Regions from separate parts of the Homo sapiens genome. Here regions 2 and 3 are each linked to region 1. Evidence: fine-mapped expression QTL. A gene starts in region 1. Each other region holds a variant in brackets. All regions are shown on one strand. Distances are between the middles of the regions.

Region 1 (7,728 bases):
CTATTTGCTAAGAGTATGATAATTTTTCTTCAGTTTGTTTAGACATACATCCACCCCATCTCTCTTTCTAAATAAGCTATTCGGCAATCTGGGAGAAAGGAAATCTTGTATCTTGGGGAAAAAAACCACTATGCAGTCAACTGAATTTCCATGAGGTTTTGGCAAACCATTTGCCAGAATGTTACTTAATTCTGAACTCAAATCCTCAAATCATACCTCCCATAACTCATTTCTCTTAAGACTCTGTTCCAATTTTTTTTTTTTTTTTAGAGACAGGGTCTTACTCTGTCACCCAGGCTGGAGAATAGTGGCACGATCATGGCTCACTGCAGCCTCAACCTTCTGGGCTCAAGTGATCCTCCTGCCTTAGCCTCCCAGGTAGCTGGGACCACAGACAAGCTCCACTGGCCCAGCTAATTTTTGCGTATATATATTTTGTAGAGAAAAAAAGTGTTGCCCAGGCTGATCTCAAACTCCTGGGCTCTAGTGATCCACCCACCTCGACCTCCCAAAGTGCTGGGATTACAGGCGTTGAGCCACCATACCTGGCCTCCAATTCTACTTTTAATCCTGCATTTCAAAATTTACTTACTATTTCAAAATTTTTGGCACTCTGTGGGAACGCAACAAATACGTGCAGAATATAGTAAGTGATTTAGTTTAGTTATTGTTCCTCTGGAAAAAACTGGCTTGCAGTAAATGACATTATTTTTCCCATACTGTTAAGGTGATGCTCACTGCAGAACTCTCTAAACAGATCTGCAGACTCTTTGGCCTGTTTCTAACACTACCGGTGTTTCCCAGAGGAGGATGCTGTCCCAACGTGGATTTCGGCTGCTGTTTTTTTCAGGCCCCAACACCACCCTCCTCAACCCCACAGCCTAGTGATTAAATGTCAGTGGCAGATGGAGAAAGCACTCCCACGTGTGCCACTCTGACAAATACTTTATTCCAACTAAATGTATAGGCTCTCACTGTGACATAAAAAGGGAAGAGGAAACAGAAAATTCAAGTGAGCTAAAGATGTATGAATTACAGAGTGAGATCAACTGCTAGACGACACAGGGAGGGAGTTAGCAGCGTCTCCACTGAAAGACAAATTCACAGACATCCTGTTTATTTCCGAAAGAGAAACATCATAGAGCTATTCTTGGGATGTTCAGGAAAAGATTAAAATAAATGCCTATTATCTATTGTATTTCGAGATAAACTTTATAGATTTAGAGCAGGACACACATTTCTGGACTTGAGAACGCTGTATCTGGCTTGGAATAAAAGCCCACATTTCATCTAGAGGTAGAATGTATGTCATTCTAATCTCCCTCAATCCTTTCTTCTCCAATTTCTTTATTGCCCCACTTACAAGATAGTGCACTATTATTCCAAAGCTGATACCTTCCAAATTCCTTTATAGTAGAGGTCTTGGCTATCATAACCATGATGGAACGAATGACCGTCCTACAGCTGGCTGCAAAATATAAGACTGCTATAAATAAATCCCTGATGCCTGAAAAGTAATTCATTCAACAAAGGAAGATAGGTATGACTTTGGCCTACTCTTCATTAGAACGCTTATTTTTATTTATTTATTTATTTATTTATAAAGAGGGCAAAGCAGACTTTATTTGAGGGGCACCACAGCAATAGGTATAGCAACAACTGCAACAGGGTTTTGTAGTCAGGGAGGGAGATCAGACTCAACTCCCTAAAATGCTAATTTTAACAATGGGACACTTCATCTGAACTGTGGTTCTTAATGGTTCAGATAAAGATGACACAACCCACTATTGGCTTAAACTTCTCCCAACTCTGGCTACAGAATCCAGGTAAAGATTTCTGCCCCCTCAGAGTAATAGGCATGTCCAAAATCACCTGGATTAGGGCACTTAATACACTGGGAAGGGACGATAACAACTAAAGATGACCACTATCCATGCCTCCTCTAAAAGTTTTTTCATATATTTTTTCATATCACCAAAACAAATACTAACTTGGATCAACTAATTTATATAATGGAATCTCGTGTGAGCGTACAAAATTCCATACTGATTATTTGGTTTAAGCCTGCATTATCATAAAGGCTTTACAGTCTTTAAACTGAAATTAAGCTCAAATTAAGAAATGCTAGTCTTAAAACAATGGAAGGGGGGGGCCGTTTTGTGTGGAGGGAGGGAGACAGACATACCCCTACACCCACCCACAACTACTGATATTGACATTGGAAATTAACTTGAAAATTTATGCCTGTAGTCCCAGCTACTCAGGAGGCTGAGGTGGGAGGAGCACTTAAGTCCAGGAGTTGGGAGATGACAGTGAGCTTTGACTGTGACACTGCACTCCAACCCGGGTGACAGGGCAAGATCCCATCTCTCAAAAAAAAAAAAAAAAAATGCTTTAACTCCACGTCTGTACCAGAAGACCACAGCAGGAGAGGAAAACCTTATTTCAGTCTGGGTAAGAGTTCTATTAAACACAAAATAAAACAAACTAGCCTCTGTTTCTGGAGGTCTTCATTAGTAGTTTCTACAAAACAGTATCCAAATTAGCAAAGATTCTGTTAACTACCTGGAAAAAGCAGGTACCAAGAAAGAATGTTTCACTACAATGGAAAAAAACAGTCTAGTAAGTAAACCAATCTGACTATAAACGCTACAAAAGAGGGATTCTAGCATTAGTAACTTTGCCAACAATACTCTGATATGATTAAAAAACAAAACAATAACAAAAACAAAAAACCTCATCTTTAAATTTGTCCCATTCATCCAGAGAAGCAAAATCAAGGAAACTAGAGGGGGTAAAGTCTTGCAACAGATACACAGCTGCACTGCCAACAGGTCACAAGACCCATGCTGCCTAGGGCATTGACTGTTATGCCATGAGGACAGACATCACACAAACACCAGTAATTAAAGGGTTACGGTGCCAAAGGGTTCAGAGCTCCACTTCCATTCAGTATCAGAACATAAGAAAAAGGGAAAAACAGAAAATGAGCCCAAATAAAATATAAAATAAAATATAGATACCAGGAGCTTCCTCAAAATATGTGGGTTGTATTAATAACGTGTTTGGCTCTGTTACGGGCACCATCCATCAGAGGACTGGAAATAGGGAAAGTCACCTTAGTCTTCCTCAAGGAAAAAAGATTATTTAACTTGGTTCACGGTGTACATTCATAATTTTAACTGTCATGTATTTATTGAATGAAAAACATTTGAGAACATCATGTGCAACAAAAACATGATTTCACAGAAATTGTCCAAACTAAAAGAGTATAAAAATAGAAGCGCTTTTTATACAATTATTTACTTATTATTATTATTGAGATAGGGTCTCCATCTGTCACCCAGGCCGGAGTGCAGTGGCGCAATCATAGAGTAGCCTCTAAGTCCTGGGCTCAAGCGATCCTCCTGCCTCAGCCTCCAGAGTCGTTGGGATCACAGGCTCGAGCCTCCACACCCGACTAACTTTTAAAAACTTTTTGTAGAGATGAGGCCTCGCTGTGTTTCCCAGCCTGATCTCGAAATCCTGGCCTCAATCGATCCTCCAACCATGGCCTCCCAAAGCGCTGGGATTACAGGCGCGAGCCATGGTGCCCGGCCGCTTTTACACAATTGAATAACATTAAAATAGGTGGCAGAAGACAGACAGAAAGTCGATTCGTGGTTGCCAGGCGTCGTGAATACCGGGGAACGCGGAGTGCCTATTAATGGGTAAGGGTTTCGTTTTGGAATCAGACAGCGGCGATGGCTGCACAACTTTGTGAATTTTCTAAGAATCACTGAACTGTGCACCTTAAAGGAAGAACTGTGTGGTAATTACATCGGCGGTACGCGGGCAGCGCGTCAATCAAGCCGGCGACGGTGAATGCAGTTCGGGAGAGCTGATACCCCTCGGGGAGGCGGCTCCGGGAGCCTGCGGACGTGGCGGACGCCTGGGACGGGGTGGGCCTGGCCTCCGCGCTCGAGGAGTCCCAGTCCTCTCCAGATGGAAGAAAGCCGGGGCGCGAAGCCGCCGCCCGCTCTTCTGCCTGGGGACGCGACTCTGCCGCCAGGCTCCCTCGGGTCAGCTCGGCACCCGCCCGAGCCCCCCCAGTTCCAGGCCCTCTCCTCATCAGACGTGCCCTGGGCCCTCAGCCTGTTCCTCTCGCCGCCCGGAACCCCGCAGCAGCCCCGGGTCCCCAGCCCGCGCCCCTCCGGCGCCGCCTCCGCCAGCTGCCCCTGCCCCCCGGGCCGCCCTCGCAGGCCGCTCCCGGCGCCCCGGTCGGCTTCCGTACCTGCCTTCTCCGCGCCGCCGTCCCAGTGGCCGGAGGTGGGGCCGTCGCCCTGCGCACTCCGGAGGGCCATGCCCCGGGGCCCCGGGCCCCCACCCGAGCCCCGGCTGGTGGCGGAGCCGGGAGAAGACGCGGCTCCGACCGCGGGACGTAGCACCCGCTCGGCATCGGCAGGCTCCCCTCCGTCGGCCAGCGGCGCGCAGGCGCGCAGGCGCCCCGCTGGCCCCGCCCCGCGCCGGCACGTGACCCTGCGCTACGCCCGGCCGGCGGCGGGGGAGGCTGCGGAAAGAGCGCGGTGAGCGCTCTGAGGAGTTGGCTTCGTCTGCGCTGTAGACTCTACGGTGTAGAGTGTGGCGCTCTTGAGCGAGTGTGCTCGAGACCAGCTGTCGTTTCCTTTGCTTCTTTCATCTGTAAAATAGTATTGATGATAATAAAAATATTGAACTCACAAGGTTATTGAGAGTGTTTAGAACATCACCAAGCATATAGTAAATACTCCACAATTATGACCAATTTTTGCTTACCAAGGATTATTTTTTTACCTCCTGTCTCGTCTCCCCACACGAACTCCTGTCATCAGTTCTTGGGTACTTGGGGATCTAGCAGGTTCATGTCATACGGGTCCGCAGGTTATGCACTGCACAAGGCCTGGGAGCGCCATTTACGTAGACGTTCACGTGAACCGTGCCCCCTTAAGTTGTGCGAAATAGTGGCCACTCATCTAAAGCAGCGCTCTGGCTTATCAGGTCTGATTTCCTTCTCGTCTTCAGTGATATTCCTTTCTTTCCAATTAGACATCCATTCCCTTGGTTATATCCCTGATATTGTGATTGTGGCCTCCCGAATTTCTAGTGCTAGGTCTTCATGCTGAAGTTCCCATAATTCCAGTTGCTTGATGACTCTCTTCCACCTCCCACCCCCAACCACAACAGTTCTTTATTATCCTGAGACCTCCAGCCCATGAAACTCCTGACCTCGTGATCCGCCCGCCTCAGCCTCTCAAAGTGCTGGGATTACAGGCGTGAGCCACCGCGCACAGCCAAGTTTTACAGTTCTATTCATAAATCTAGTAAATTATATCAGTTATTTGGTCCCATTAATAAACTAAGCTAATTAAAATCCTTTGAACATTTGAAACTGCATTTATAAATTCAATTCGTTTTTCTAAGTATCACAGGTTTCTAACAAAGCCTTTCAAGTCCTTGTGTAATTCTTGTAAATGTAATACATTTATAAGAATACTGAGTCATGAGTGCTTTCAAATGTGTCAATACAAACGAGATTTCATCTTAAAATCAAAAGTCTAAATCTATTCAAATACATATTTGTAATTAGTACAAGAATAATCTGTTAGAATTCTCAAAATTATCTTTTTTTTTTTTTTGAGACAGAGTCTCACTCTATCACCCAGACTGGAGTGCAATAGCGATCATAGCTCACTGCAGCCTCAAGCTCCTGGGCTCAAGCTAGCCTCCTGTTGCAGCCTCCCGAGTAGCTGAGACTGTAGGTACACACTACCATGCCTGGCTAGTTTTTTTAGTTTTTATAGAGGGGGTGGGGAATCTCCCTATGTTGCCCAGGCCGGTCTCAAACTGCCTTCGCCTCCCAAAGCTCTGGGATTACAGGCGTGAATCACAGTGCCAAGCTCTTGAAATTATCTTGAACATTATAGGAATTTAAAGTATCACATTTACACAGATGCCTTAATGCAAAATTATTAATACTAGAAGTTTGAAAACATTTCTAGTCTTTGTTCTAAATCATCTGTGAGGCTCATGCCTGTAATCCCAGCACTTTGGGAGGTGAAGGGCTGCAGATCACTTGAGGTCAGGAGTTCAAGACCAGCCTCACCAACATGGTGAAACCCCATCTCTACTAAAAATACAAAAATTAGCTGGGCATGGTGGTGCCTGCCTGTAATCCCAGCTACTTGGGAGGCTGAGGCAGGAGAATTGCTTGAACCTGGGAGGCAGAGGTTGCAGTGAGCCAAGATTGCGCCACTGCACTCCAGCCTAAGAGACGGAGTGAGACTCCATCTCAAAAAATAAATAAATAAAATGAAATAAATCATCATTGAGGTTAAAAGATGCTTAGTGCCCACTGAAGGAAGATTTAAGTCATCCCAGTTTAAGAGTAACGTGCTCAAGCAATTTGAGATATTTATTCCCTTCTCAGTTTACTGCGCTGGTCATCCAGCCAGCTGGATTCTTGCTTTTGGTAGTGATGGAACAGTGACCCCCACCCCATTCCCACCACCACAACTCTAGGACTAAACAGTTGTGTGGTCGTTGTGAAGCTTGGGCCAGAATTTACTTTCAAAAAATGTCCCGCTTCATGTATAATATAAAGACCTTACAATAAATTCCCATTTCTTCCCTCCTGTTCTTCTTGCTGTTGTCCTACATTTTACTTTTTAAAATCCCTTCCTTCTCTTGCTTTCTCCCCTCTACCCACCAACCACTTGCAAACAACCACTGATCTACATCCTGTCACTATAGATTGGTTTTCATTTTCTGGAATTTTTTATGGACGGAATCATATAGTATGTAGTCTTTTTTGTCTGGCTTCTTTTACTCAGCGTAATTATTTTATAAGCAATCATGTTGCATTAATCAATAGTTCATTTGTTTTTGTTGTTAAGTAGAATTTCATCTTAGAAATATACCACGATTCATTTTATCAGTATTTTAAATTTTTGCATGTGCTGCAAGTACACAATTCATTGCTAATATGCTTGCCTTAGACCAGGCGGTTAGCAAAAAAGATGGTCTGCCCACCTGCAAGCCAAAACCACTCTACTGCCTGATTTTGCACGGCTCATGAACTAAGAATGGCTTTTACCTTGATAAATGTTGAAAAATCACAACTTAATTGTAGCACATTAAAACTATATGGAATTTAAATCTCAGTGTCCATAAACCTTTACTGAAACAGAGTCACGCTCATTCATTTACCTACTGTCTATGGCTGTTTTCATGCTGCAACGGTAGAGTTCAGTGGTTGCAACAGAGATATGGCCTACAAAACCTAAAATATTTATTATCTGCTCCTTTATGTATTTATTTATTTTATGTGTGTATGTATGTATGTATTTTTTTGAGATGGAGTTTCACTCTTGTTGCCCAGGCTGGAGTGCAATGGCGCAATCGCAGCTCACTGCAACCTCCGCCTCCCAGGTCCACGTGATTCTCCTGCCTCAGCCTCCCGAGTAGCTGGGATTAGCCCGCCACCATGCCTGGCTAATTTTTTTGTATTTTTAGTAGAGACGGGGTTTTGCCATGTTGGTCAGGCTGGTCTCAAACTCCCGACCTCAGGTGATCCGCCCGCCTCAGCCTCCCAAAGTGCCTGGGATTACAGGCATGAGCCACCGCACCCGGCCTATCTGCTCCTTTATAGAAAAAGATTGGCAGGACGTGGTGGCTCACACCTGTAATCCCAGCACTTTGGGAGGCCGAGGC
Region 2 (7,728 bases), 160 kb after region 1:
GTGTTGCTTGGTTCAGTCCCTCATCTTGTTCATGTCCCTGCTCAGATGTCATCTTCTCAGTGAGGCCCTCTCTTCCTACTCCCAAACCCCTTGACTTGCTCTATTTTCCTCTCGCCATGGCCCTTAGAACTACCTAACACACTATGCACTTTACTTATTGTGTTTCCCCGCCCACCCCGTCCACCCTAGAATGTCAATACCACAGGGCAGGAATCTTGGTTATTCTTTAATGTCTCCCCAGTGCCTGTAAGAGTACCCAACACTCACAGTGGTTTGCTGAATGAATGAATGAATGAGCTGTAGGAGCCCAGAAGGGGTTCGTTGCCTTCCCTAGGACTATGTATGTGGGGAAGCAGAGTGGGTGAGGAAAGGGCAGGATTGGAGTGACTGGGTTGAGCCAGTGTGGCCAGGGCTGGAGGACATTTCTTGGAAGTGACAACTCACTGCCCAGCTGGGGAATCCTGAGGATGGGAGAGTGCAGGGCAAGCCTTTGAAGATGCAAACATGGGTCGTCTCCGGGGCCTCCCTCCTTCCTGGTCTTGTGTGTCTCCGGCCCTGCCAGTAAACAGGATCTCTGGGCAACTGCCTGAGAACCCTGCCCAGTGCCCCAGAGGCCCTGACGTGCTCCTTCCTGAGCTATAAATCAGGTACCTTCCAGCTGTGTGACATCCTGGATTTGATGGGGAAGGCAGAGCAGACAGATTTGTTGCAAAGAGCTGTGCACTGCACCTTGATTTCCTTGTTAGCAAAATAGGAAGGATAGGAGCGTTGACTTCAAGCTGTGGCTGTGAAATCGAGTGAGATAATGCATGAAATTCCTCTGTAAACAGAGATGCTTCAAGGACGCATTAGTGGGTGGAGGCACAGGGAGCAAATCCCAACTCTGCCGCTGAGCTCTGTGTCTTCACCTGTAAAATGGGGTTAATGTGAATCACTAACTTCCTAGGGCTATTGAGGGATTCAAAAATGGAGAGAAAAGTCTTAGTACCCAATGAACGTGCAATAGATATTAGCTGTTATTAATGGTAACTATTACCATAATGATAAAGAATCAGATGTTATTGATAAGCCATTTGGGAGACCGAGAGTCTCAGTTCATACCCCAGAGGGGACCATGGACTTGGCACAGCACGATTTCAACCCTGTGCCTTTTGTGTATATTTCAATCTGGTCAGAGACTATCTCCCACTCACAGGCCACCTCCTCCCCCTACCCCCAGAAAGGCTATACTTGTGAGCACACCACTTCCCTAAAATATGCCACAAGAGTCGACATCTAGCCAGGCACAGTGGCTCATGTCTATAATCCCAGCAATTTGGGAGGCCAAGGTAGGAGGATAGCTTGAATCCAGGAGTTCGAGACCAGCCTGGGCAAGATGGTGAAACCATCTCTACTAAATAATTTTTTAAAAATTAGCTGGGTGTGGTAGTGTGCACCTGTAGTCCCAGCTACTTGGGAGGCTAAAGTGGGAGGATTGCTTGAGCCCAGAAATTCAAGGCTGCAGTGAGCTGTGGTTGTACCATTCCACTTCAGCCTGGGCAACAGGGCAAGACCTTGTCTCTAAAAAAATTTAAAACAAACAAACAAACAAAGAATAAATATCTAGCCTTGAAGCCAGCCTTGGGGGTGGGGTGGGAGGAGGACTATTTGTGTGCAGGAGTTCAAACCCAGGCCCCATCACTCCCCAGATGTGGAAACTTAGACATGTTATTTAATTGTCCTATGCCTCAGTTCCCTCAACTGAAAAAGAGAATAATAATAGTACCCATCTCTTCTAGTTGCATTGAGGACTGAATGAGTTAAAAAGTACCCAACACACCATATGAGATAATGCTATTTTCATTCTACCAATGGGTAAACTGAGGCTCAGCTAGGAGAAAGAACTTGGTTCAAGCTATCAGTCGTGTTGTTTATTGGCCCTAAGTTGTGACGAGTTTCATTATACCATTAGAAGCCCCCGAACAGTGAACTCATTGTTTGTGAGGTATCTCTATCTCTTAGTGATTTTTTAGTTAAATGAGAGTCCATGCTAATCATTTATAAAAAATGGATAAGATAAAAACTTAACATTGAAACATCCATGGGCTTCTTTCCATAAGAAATGGAGAAACTCTTGCTCCTAGTATTAAAAGGTCGTGGGTTCCAGTTTGAGATGCACCAAGCAAGGTAATAGGAAGTCCTTGAAGGTTCTTGAGCAGGGGGAAGCATGAACTTAAAGCATATGAACCATGTGTTTGGGTCAATTCAAGTTACTGAGACTTAGACATTGCTGGTGGGATGCAAATTGCTACAATCTCTGTGGAGGGTGATTGAGTTCCACAAATATTTAAGATAAATGTAAGAGCTCCTACCAAATGCCAGGTGCTGTTCAGGTGCTAAGGATTTGCAGCAAATAAATCCAACCAAGTCCCTCTGCCTGGTGCTTATTTTCTGGAGAGGAGACACACAATGAATGAATATACAACTTAGTATAGCGTGCACTGGGGAAAGAAATAAGAGCATTTCTACAATAATGTTTACTGCAGTGTGAAGGGGGATCTGAAGAGGCTGGACAGAGCCAAGTATGGGTGAAGATGTGGAGATAGCGCTGGGGGTGTGTGGACTGGAGCTGCCATCTGGAGAGCAATCTGTCCAGTTAAATCTGTACATTGGGTGCATAAATTATGGCCACCAATTATTTGACATTCCTCCCATCTAGATGTAGGTCTATGTATCTGCTCTCTGAATCTGGGCTGGCCTCTGACTGCTTTGACAAACAACTATGGTGGAAGTGATGATGTGTCAGTTTCCAGGCCTAGGCTTTAAAAGATTGGCAGCTTCTACTTCCTCTTTCTTGGAACAATTACTTGAGGGGAAGCCAGCTGCCATGAAGAACTCCAGCCACCCCAAGACTGCCATTCTGTGAGGAAGTCCCGCGAACAATGGAAAGAAGTCCTCTAGGATGAGACACCATGTGATGGAGAGAGAGGCCAGGAACATCAAGGCTGTAGACATGAGTGAAGATGCCATCTTGAAAGGGAACCTCCAGCCGTAGCTGTTTCAGTTGATACCACAAGGTTCAGAAAGGAGCCACCCAGCTGAGTCCTTCCTAAATTCCTGACTCACAAAGTAATGAACAAAGTGGTTGCTTTAAGCCTCTAAGTTGAGGGTAGTTTATTGTAGTGCAAAAGATAACCAGAATAGATATATCCGATGACCCAGCAATTATACTCCTGGCTATATGTCCAGACAAAATTCTCTTATCAGCCCATAGAGGATATGGCCATATTGTTGTGGCAACAGAGAGTTAGAGGCCACTCAGGTATCCATTACTGGGGTGGTAGAAAGGAATACATGGTAGGTGCAAAGAGCTCTAGGCAGCAATCAGAAGTCACAGGTGAAGCCACACATACAAGTCTGTTATGTTCTACGTGAAGACTTATACACCACAGAATGCACAAAGAACCCATCAGAATCTATGGAGGTGCAGAAAATATGAAGGGGAAATGGGATAAAAAGGAATAACTAGAGAGAGAGAAACAAAACCAAACAAAGGAGGGTGCACAGGGGTAAGTTATGATAATCTGCCATGAATTGAGGTCTTATTAAACTCAACGCTCTACATTTAAAATCTAAAAAGTAATAACAAAGGCCAACAAAATTAATGTGTGTGAATAGGGGGTTGGTTAAATAAATTGTAGCACATCCACATGAGGGAGTACTGTAAAGCCATAAAAAAGAGTGGCAGAGCTTGCTATGTACTAACATGTAAGAGTCCCAAAGTATGTCGAAAAGGCTATAA[G/A]AAGGGTATTGAAAAGGATGCATAATAGGCTTCCATTTGGGGGGAGATACCAGTGTGTGTGGTTGTGGATATGTTTATAGACAAATGGTATATCTGTGGAAGGATGCTCCTGGGGAAAAGAGCCAGATGTCAGGGGAGAGGGGTGGATGGCACTTCAGAAGAGCAGGCACCCAGGAGCTGTGTTCAGAGAAGGAATTGCCACTAACACTGGGACCACCTCCTCCAGGCCAGGATCACGCCAGGTGTGGGGGCTCAGAGTGGGCAGAGAGCCTCTGCTGCTTCCAAGATGCCCAGGGTCCTGACTGTGTCCATGATGCAACCTCAGCCAACAAGTTGGTTGGGCACTGCCCACTGCTGTGCCCTCATCAGCCACTGTCCTCACTTCATTGCCACTCACCATCACCACTCTCCTTCATTCTGCCTGAAACACTCCTCCCCACTGCCCGTCTCCCTCTGTTACTTAATACTCAAACTAGTACAGAGAATAACAGAATAAAATCCCATGTACTCACTGCTCAGTTTAAGGAATAATACTTTTCTTTTCTTTTTTGAGATGAAGTCTCGCTCTGTTGCCCAGGCTGGGGTGCAGCAGCGTGATCTCAGCTCACTGCAACCTCCGCCTCCCAGATTCAAGTGATTCTTCTGCCTCAGCCTCCTGAGTAGCTGGGATTACAGGGATACGCCACCACACCTGGCTAATTTTTGTATTTTTAGTAGAGATGGGATTTCACCAAGTTGGTCAGGCTGGTCTCAAACTCCTGACCTCGTGATCTGCCTGCCCCGGCCTCCCAAAATGCTGGGATTACAGGCATGAGCCACTGCGCCTGGCCTAAAACTTTTCAAAAAGAATTGAGAGTGAATGGTTTTAAATATGTCCACAAATTCTTGGACACTCCTCTCTTCAAAAAGTAGAGTTACATTCTCCTTACCTTTGAGTATGGGCTGAGCTCAGCAACTCATGTCTAATGAAGAGGATGTGGTGAATGAGGATGGGTCACAAAAGGGATACAACTTCTGCTTAATTGTCCATCTGTCCGTCTATCTCTCCATGCTCACTTTTGGAATCCAGCCACCATGTTGTGATAGAACCCAAGATGCATGGGCGGGCCCACATGGAGAGGAACTGAGGCCCTCTCCCCTCTTCCCAGTCCCTGATCAACAACCATCACAAATTTGCTAGCCACCCAGATGAACCCCCTTTGGCTTGGCAGCAAATTCTCCAGCTTACCCTCCAACTCCCCAACCCGATAGGCCTTCAGATGACTGCAGGCCCAGCTGACAGCTGAATTTAGCTTCCTGAGGACCAGAACCACCCAGCTAAACCATGCCCATATTCCTGCCTTCAGAAACTGTGAGATATAAAAAATGACTGTTAGTACTTTGAAAACATTATGTTTTGGGATGATTTCTAATGCAGGATCGATTGCTAATACAGAGGGTCCCTGGTATCCCTCCCCACCATCCCCATCCACCCTCTTAGAAGCCACAATCCTGATGTTTATTATTTCCATGAATGTTTTACCTTTTACTACATATAATAAATCCTTACCCAATACATAGGACTATATTTCCTTCTTTTTTAAAGAATTTTTTCTTTTTGAGATGGAGTTTTGCTCTTGTTGCTCAGGCTGGGGTGCAATGGCGCGATCTCGGCTCACTGCAACCTCCGCTTCTCGAGTTCAAGCGTCATTCTTAAAAATGTATAGAAGTGCATATATATTGTATGGATTCTGTGCATCCTACCTCGCATGCTCTTTTCCTTGCACAGTGTGCATTGGCGACCCATCTGCATTGAGGCAGGCAGCTGCCATTCGTTGGCACTGCTGGGCATTCTTCCCTTATATGAATATGTTAATACCACGATATAGTATCTGAAGTCCATGTTGATGAACATTTGGATGGTTTTTATTTTTTGCTATTACAAACAACAGCGCTGGTAACATCCACTTGCCCTCTTCCCTCTTTCACATGGCACCTTCTTGTTCTTGGAGGTCTCAGCTCTAACAATGTAACCCCACCAACCCCCCGCTCCAGCTAATGGGTTCTCTGTCCCCACATGTGCCTCCCAAGCTGGCTTTTGATGGTGCTCCCTCTGTTTTTCCTTCTGGCATCTACTCCGTGTGGTCAACATTCAGTTATCTTTTCCTGTCTGGAGCTAGAGGGTAAGCCCCATGAAGGCAGGCAGAGTAGTGGGTTTTTTTCCCCAGTCCCCTCCATCCCTGATGCTTTGCACAGGGCCTGGCACACAGTAGGTTCGCAAGAAAAATTGTTGGATCAGGAATGGCTGAGAATTAGCTTCCTCTCTTTGGGCTTCAGTTTTCCCATCTGCACAGTGAAAACTTTAGATAATTTCGGGGTGATTTTAGGTTTAGCCTTTGAGAGGTGCCTCAGTGGCCGCCACAAAATATCGGAAGACCCCAACTTTCAGCAGAGCTGGCCTTGTTTCCCTTGTGTCTTAGATTGGTCTCTATGGCAGATTATGTTTAAAAAGAATAGCCACCATTTATTGAGCGCTCACTACGTGATAGGCATGCTGTCAGCTGGCAGATGCATTTCCTCATTTTGGCCACTCATTAACCCTCAGAAGTAGCACTGTTACTATGCTCTTTATAAAGAGGGGTAAACTGAGGCAAAGAGAGGTGAAGTCACTTGTCAGAGGACTAGCAAAGGAGGGAGCTGGGATTTGTAGCACAAGAGACTATCAGAGCCCATTCGCCAACCCTGGTGCAGCCCTGCCCCACTGGTACCACAGCTTTAAAGAAGTGGGGTGGGAGGCAGAGGAGGAGGACGGTGAAGGACAAGGGTGAAGAGAAATGTTTGGATAAGTTTGACAGCCACTCTTCTGAAGGGCTTTGCCAGCCGCAGCATTCGGGTGTCCCTAGTCACGGGGGCTCCGTCACTTCCCTATCCCCCTGTTTCCCGGCCCTGATGGGTCTTGCTCTGTCACCCAGGAGGCTGGAGTGCAGTGGCGTGATCACAGCTCACTGCAGCCTGGAACTCCCGGGCTCAAGTGATGTTCCCCATCAGCCTTCCTAGTAGCTGCGACTACAGGCGTGCACCACCATGCCCAGCTAAGTTTTAAATGTTTATATAGACACAGGGTCTCACTATGTTGCCCAGGCTGGTCTCGAACTCCTGGCCTAAAGCAATCCTCCTGTCTTGGCCTCTCAGAGCACTGGGATTAAAGTGTGAGCCACTGTGCCTGGCTGAGATTTATTGATCACATAGATACCTATATTATTCTAAGTGTTTTTCAAGTGACAACTCATTTAATCTTCATAACTGTCCTGTGACGTAGATAGTATCAGTTTTATCAGTATTTTATGGAGATTAAGTAACAGAAGCACAGAAAGGTCAAGTAACTTGCACAGAGTCACACAGCTGGTAAGATGTGGACCCAGCTTTGAATCCAGGCAGTCCAGCTCCAGAATCCTTGTGCTTCACATCACCACACGCTGCCTTCACCATCACGTGTCAGTTCCACACAAGTGGATGCCCACAATGGTTGGGAGTAAGGGGAAAAGGAGTAGGGCTTGAGGAAAAAATAAAAGTGAAGCGTGTGATGATAATGAGCTATGCTTGAGAAATGGGATTAACTCAGCTCTCTGTACTTGATAGAAAAAAGAAGGAGAAGGAGGAGAGGAAAGAAGAAGAAGGAAATATTTAACTGGACTCTCCGGGGCTTAATTATAACAACTGTCTGGCACCTAAGGTCCTTCCCTAGCTGGGCTTGCTGCTTCTCTAATCTCATTTCCCTACGTTTCTCACGGTGCTCCAGTCACTCCAGGCCACACCTGATCCCAGAAACCTACTTGTTCCTACTTTGAGCCTTTGCTTGTGCTGTTTCTTCCATTAAGGGTGCCCTTTTTGCCAGGTGCAGTGGCTCATGCCTATAATCCCAGCACTTTGGGAGGCCGAGGTGGGACAATCACCTGAGGTCAGGAGTT
Region 3 (5,839 bases), 23 kb before region 1:
TCCCTCCACATGTTCAGCTCTTCAGAAGCTCCCGTGTTCCTGGGCCTTTTATGGAGACGTCATTGGATAGGCATGGCTGAAGCATGGCAGCTGTGTTGAGATGAAACTGGACAAAAAGCATAAGGTCTAAACCCAGCAAGGCCTGTCTGTCCAGATGCTTCTTGGCCTCTCTGTGCAGCGTTCCTCCTTCCGGGTATGGGGCAGCACCCTCTCTGGAATGAGGGTCTTATGAGCTACAGTCAGATTAAAGTCTGGTGTTGAGCAAGTGAAATGGGGCAGGAGAAGGTCACAGACAGAGATTCCGTTTTCTGAGGCCTGCAGTGTCCCAACATTATAACAAAGGGTTATGGGAGTGATGAACCAGGAACTGTGGACAAAAACATCTACACACGTATAAAATATCACAGTGCCCTGGGCTGCAGCTGGAGTGTGTGGGTCATAATTCTTGCAGATGAAACAGAAACAGCAAGACTGTAGGTACTGCCCAAGGTCTCCTAGCCAGTCAAGGCTGACCAGGAGTCCACAGACCATGGCACAGTTCTGGGCCTGACATGGAAGGTGGGAGCATCCAGATCAGAGACCATTCCCACTGAGCGGTGGCCAAGGACGGAATGACAGAAGAGGTGATTAGTAACCACATATGGCTGTTTATTTGATACAGGGCTCTGTACAAAATATTTACACATATTCTTTACAGAATAAGTAAACCACCTGAAGGTAATTAGATAATGCTTTCTTCTCAATGACAGGGAGAATCCTGGTGTCAGCAAAGTTAGAAAACAGATAAACATTCTCCTTCCGAGGCCACAACTCAAGCAAATGCCACTTGCTTCCTAGGATCTGAAAAGCTGTGGCCTTGGGACCCTGGTCACATGCACCTCCTTTCCTCAACCCCATCAATTCCTTCAGTATTTACAAACAGGCTTGAGTACTTGTGGAAGGAGGGGCAGCTGGTGCCGCCCACTGAGAGGATGACAAGAGGGCCAGCTTGCTTTGGGAGAGCACTGGGAATATCTGCCGCATCATCACCTCTGGAAGAATTTCCTTTGCCCTGATGAATACACCACTGTCTAAATTAATCCATCGACATCACACTTACCCCACAGTGGGGCTCCTGAGCCATGGACAATGATCCATCCCTTTGAGCTTTTTTTGGTTTTAAAGTGCGTAGTGGTGGCTGGGCGTGGTGGCTCACACCTGTAATCCCAGCACTTTGGGAGGACGAGACGGGCAGATCACCTGAGGTCAGGAGTTCGAGACCAGCCTGGCCAACGTGGCGAAACCCCATCTCTACTAAAAATACAAAAATTAGTCAGGCGTGGTAGCAGGTGCCTGTAGTCCCAGCTACTCGGGAGGCTGAGGCAGCGAGAATTGCCTGAACTTGGGAGGCGGAGGTTGCAGTGAGCTGAGACTGCACCACTGCACTCCAGCCTGGGCAACAGAGTGAGACTCCATCTCAGAAAAAAGAAAATAATAATAAAATAAATAAAAATAAAGTGCTTAGTGTAACTCAGCGGACAGGGCTCCCAGCTGCTCTGGCACGTGGGACACCCTCCACCCTGCACACAACAGGCATGCAAAGAGGACTGGATATGGTGGGGTAGAGTGCTTCTGGTGTGTTCACTTTAAGAAAACATCTGCCAAGAGAGAAGAGTGCCCAGGAAAGACCAGGAAAATACAAGTACATGGCTGCTTCATACCATATACCCCAATTCTTTAAAGCAGCAAAAGGCACTTTTTTTTTCAGGCCAGAGTGAATCTAAAACAAACCTGGCTTTGCTTACAGGGAAGCTGTCCCAGAAGGACTGAGTGATGCCTCTTGTTCCCTAAGGTCTGGAGAGTCTTTGCAAGTTTCCAACGACATTTCCAACCAGGTGGGAGAGACCAGCAGTTGACGAGTCAAGTCAGACCCAAAAAACGACGCCAAGGTAGTGAGTGGGTGCCTATTTGGGAGTAGGATGATTTGAGGAAAACAGGAAGAAAAACCGGTCAGAAAGTGGCACTTTGGAAGTGGAAAGCTGTTTGCAAATAGCAACTCTGGCTAAAGCGAAAATGTTAATCAAGTAGAAAGTAAAATTCAGGATCTTAGAAGCTCATCCTTCTGATGAGAACTATTTTTTTTTCCGTGAAGGAACTATTATTACTTTAAAAGTGAGGGTAATTTACATATGGGGTGTATATATTCTAAAAATAGTAATAAAAGTACCTTTTATAAGCAATGTTGTGTGGCTTGTAGAAGAAAGCAGGGAGGAAAAAAAGGCAGGCAAAACTAGTCTAGGTCTAGGCCCTAAAAATGAGCTTCCTTCCCACTTGACTGGAAACGCCCATGTGATTTCTAGGCTGAAAATAGGTAGGATTTAACGAGTAACCTAGTTCCCTTCTGTCTCTGATTTCTGATCAGCTGATGGAGCTGCTAGTAAGAGGGGCCGATCATGCTCCCAGACGAGTCCTTTGGCCTCTTGCTCTCCATCCCAAGCCTGACTCCTTCAGCAGCAGCCCCCTCCTTCTGTGTCCATCTGATGCAGGCAAGCAGGAGCAGTAAGAGGGCATCCCATGTTCCAGTTCACCTTCTATGGGGTGACTAGGAGGTTCCCGGTAACTAGGGCAGCCCAGGCCCAGCAGGTTGCAAAAGCAGCTGCAAGCTTCAGAAACCCACTTCCTCCAACACCAGGGAGGTGGCAGAGAGCCCATCCAAAAGCCCACTGGGAGAGGCATAAGATTCTGTGCCAGGCCCCCAGGTCCCCTCTGTGTCAGGTAGGCTCTGCTA[C/T]TGGCCTCTGAAGTAAAGGCAAACACAAACGGGCAGGGCAGGGTGGCAGGAATAAAAAACTCTGGACAGAAACCCTTTTAATAAAGGAAATTCCACCCCTCCCAATCCTTCCATGGAAGGGTGAGACCTTAATGTGATGTAAGAGGAAGGTCTTCTCTGGCTTTCAGGGAAACAGCTGCAGCTGAAACTTAGGGGCCCATTCCAGGGCACTTTTCACCACAGCCAGTGCAGCCGCTCCAAGTGCCACTGTCAGCCCCATCACTGCCAATTTCACAAAGCGGTTGGTCCTTGGCTTGGTCAGGACATCTTTTGTTCGATCTTCAGGCCGCAGAAGTCCCCGAAACCGCTGCCGCAGCACCATATCAGGCCTCTGCTGGGCTGATGCCAGCTCAAAGTCTTTGAAAGTAGAGGCTGCCGTCCTGCAGGGGAAAGAGACGGAAGGAAGGAAGTGGTATGAAAGAGGAGGAGGAAAGCAAAACTACACCACATAGGCTGCGGGCAGAGCCTTTCATTGCTGGGAAAGCTCTTTATGATAAAGACCCATATGTCTACAGTGGGGATTCCACTGGCCTAAGCTCAGATCTCTGGAAACATGCCCCAACCCTATCCCACCAGACACAAACCTTCCCTCGCTTCTGCTCATTTACAGCCACCCCCATTCAACCAGTGTCCCAGCCTTGCTCACCTCTCAGCTTGCTGTTGGGCAGCGGCCTCCCGAGCAAGTTCGGATGGGGGAAACTGAACAAAAAGGTCTCCTGCTCTGCTGATCAGTGTCTCATAGGGCAAGTCCTGAGGGATCTGGGACAACAGGTGGTGGACCGAGGCCATGTCACAGTCACAGTCCAGGACTTCCTGCTCGCGATACAACACAATCTGTGGGGAGGTAGTAAAGCCTTGCAGTCAGAGGCCAGACACACAGGGCCTGGGCCACCTGCACTCCATTATCCTTGCAGATGAATTTAAACTGGTAACAGACAGGACTCAGCCCAAATGTTGAGCAAACTCTTGTATCCATCAAGGAAGTAATAACATATATACGCTCAGTGCTACTCCTACTCTCTGGCCCTTCCTGCAAACTTCCACCACATGACATGAAAGGCTGACCAGTTACAATCTAAGTCCTTCGGGCATGCTGGGCTGCTCAGGTGTCCCTTTAAGTCTTGAAAGAAATGAAGGAGATTCTTTTAGGAGAAAGTAGGAGAATTATTGGGAGATTCCTGGAGCTCCAGCATAGAAGAAATGGTTCAAAACAGTAGAAAGAACAGTCTTGCTCCCTTTAAGCATCTTCCTTCTGACTGTTGGTCCACAAATCCACAGATGCTCAAGGGACCAGTGGTCATTGAAGGACTTCCCTGAATTCCCATCTCCACCCCATCCCTCAAGACCCTTCTACTAACTGAAGCCCCTACCCTCCACCGCAAGCCGCCTCCCTTGTCTGTCATGACACCAGATCTCTTCTTTTCTTAAATCTGGAGTTGACAGCTTACGCTACTATTTCCCTAATTGTGTTCATCAGCTGAACATATATTCCAGACAATGTCAACAGGAACCCTGACAATTCACAATGCAGATTAGCATTTTAAAGGTTCAGAAGTGTCATGCAGCAAAAAAAATCTGATTTTGTTTATACCCAGCATTTCCCAACTTACTATTTTTTGTGTGTGACACCCCCATTAATACTGCACAGAATGGTGTCCAGGGACACCAGCCTGGGAAGTGCTGTCTTTTGCATCTTTCCATAATCCCCAGGTTTCCCTTCAGGGAAAATGACCACAGTGGGATGGGTGATGGTGAACCCAGCTGCTGGCTCGTGGCCTGTACCTACCACGGCTGCAAAGTAAATCGGCATCAGTGGGTGGCAGGCCAGGAAGAAGTCATATAACCGCACGACGTGCCTGAAGTCAGACAGGACATGCCCAAACCAGGTGATGAGCCAGCTGAGGGCAAAGATGGTCCCTACCTCAGCACTAGAAACAAAGGAAAGGCAGGTGTCAGGTCCTGTGGGCCATCCCTTCCCTCTCTCTGGGCCTTATAGCGCTGGTGAGAAGGAAGCATTTAGGAATAAGATTTCTGGAAAATTCAGTTACCTAGGAATTCAGCATCTTCTCCTTACAAAATATTTAATACAAAGTCTTTAAGGTGTACCACAACACTAACACCACAACAGGGTCCTGGCTGCTTTATCTCACTGGGTGCTCGCCTACTGGCCAACAAATGTCAACTACAGGAACGAGAAGCAGTTGTTTTCAGAGAACTACGCCATGATTCTCCTTCTGACTAAGTCTTACCCTTCTGGGGGGCACAGGTACATATTCCCAAGCCTGAAAACATGACTGCATTAATTTTTCTGTTAACATGAGACAACTGAAATATCTTAAGATGTAGCTGCCAGACACGGTGAGTCACGCCTATAATCTCAGCACTTTGGGAGGCCAAAGCGGGCGGATCACCTGACATCGGGAGCTCGAGACCAGCCTGACCAACATGGAGAAACCCTGTCTCTACTAAAAATACAAAATTAGCCGAGCGTGGTGGCGCATGCCTGTAATCCCAGCTACTTGAGGCTGAGGCAGAAGAATCGCTTGAACCCGGAAGATAGAGGTTGCAGTGAGCCAAGATCATGCCATTGCACTCCAGCCTGGGCAACAAGAGAAAATACTCCATCTCAAAAAAAAAGAAGGCATAGCCATTACCTTTTAAAAAATTTTAAAAAAAGAGGCATTGGCCAAGAACACATTTCCAACTAAACAGAGAAGAAACAAAACATCACATGGGATTTGCAAAAAAATATTTCTTCTCTTTGGTACTTGGGAAATAAAACAACCCATTGTTGGCCTTCCCCTTCTCGCCACTGGATCCCACAGGACTTTGTGTTTCTCTTGTGGCAATAACCTCAACATCTTACCTTGGCATACATACCTTATCCACCTCTCCCCACTAGATGTAAACTCAAGGGATGGGCTATGTCCCCCAAAGAGCACAGTCCCCAAAAATGCTCCAAGAACTGAATTACCCAGATTGCTGGTGACTGGAACAACTGGGGAGAACTTAACAAATCCACCCAAGACAATG

Which allele goes with the higher level. Positions count from the first base shown, and alleles are read on the strand shown. Sizes are in standard deviations (SD) of each study's normalised expression. Not every link is listed here.
As copies of G replace A in region 2, the expression in monocytes of the gene that starts at base 4,471 in region 1 goes down (moderate effect, 0.51 SD a copy in Quach 2016).

The links.
Region 2: its variant is fine-mapped to the expression of TBC1D20 in monocytes (Quach 2016, PIP 0.95).
Region 3: its variant is fine-mapped to the expression of TBC1D20 in CD4 T cells (Kasela 2017, PIP 0.95).

Annotation. Positions count from the first base shown.
Region 1 is chr20:458,063-465,790 of GRCh38, forward strand. TBC1D20 (TBC1 domain family member 20) reads right to left here and starts at 4,471. Exons shown (of 8, transcript NM_144628.4): 1 at 4,274-4,471. The coding sequence starts at 4,343. RefSeq lists silencers at 3,854-4,002, 4,071-4,560, 4,841-4,910.
Region 2 is chr20:622,660-630,387 of GRCh38, forward strand. No RefSeq gene overlaps it. Among named protein-coding and RNA genes, the nearest start is that of TCF15, 16 kb to the left of the region's middle. RefSeq lists an enhancer at 1-127. The variant G/A (reference allele first, on the strand shown) is at 3,782.
Region 3 is chr20:435,656-441,494 of GRCh38, forward strand. It overlaps TBC1D20 (TBC1 domain family member 20), which reads right to left. Exons shown (of 8, transcript NM_144628.4): 6 at 4,593-4,734; 7 at 3,453-3,640; 8 at 1-3,186. The coding sequence ends at 2,931. Among named protein-coding and RNA genes, the nearest start is that of TBC1D20, 24 kb to the right of the region's middle. The variant C/T (reference allele first, on the strand shown) is at 2,768.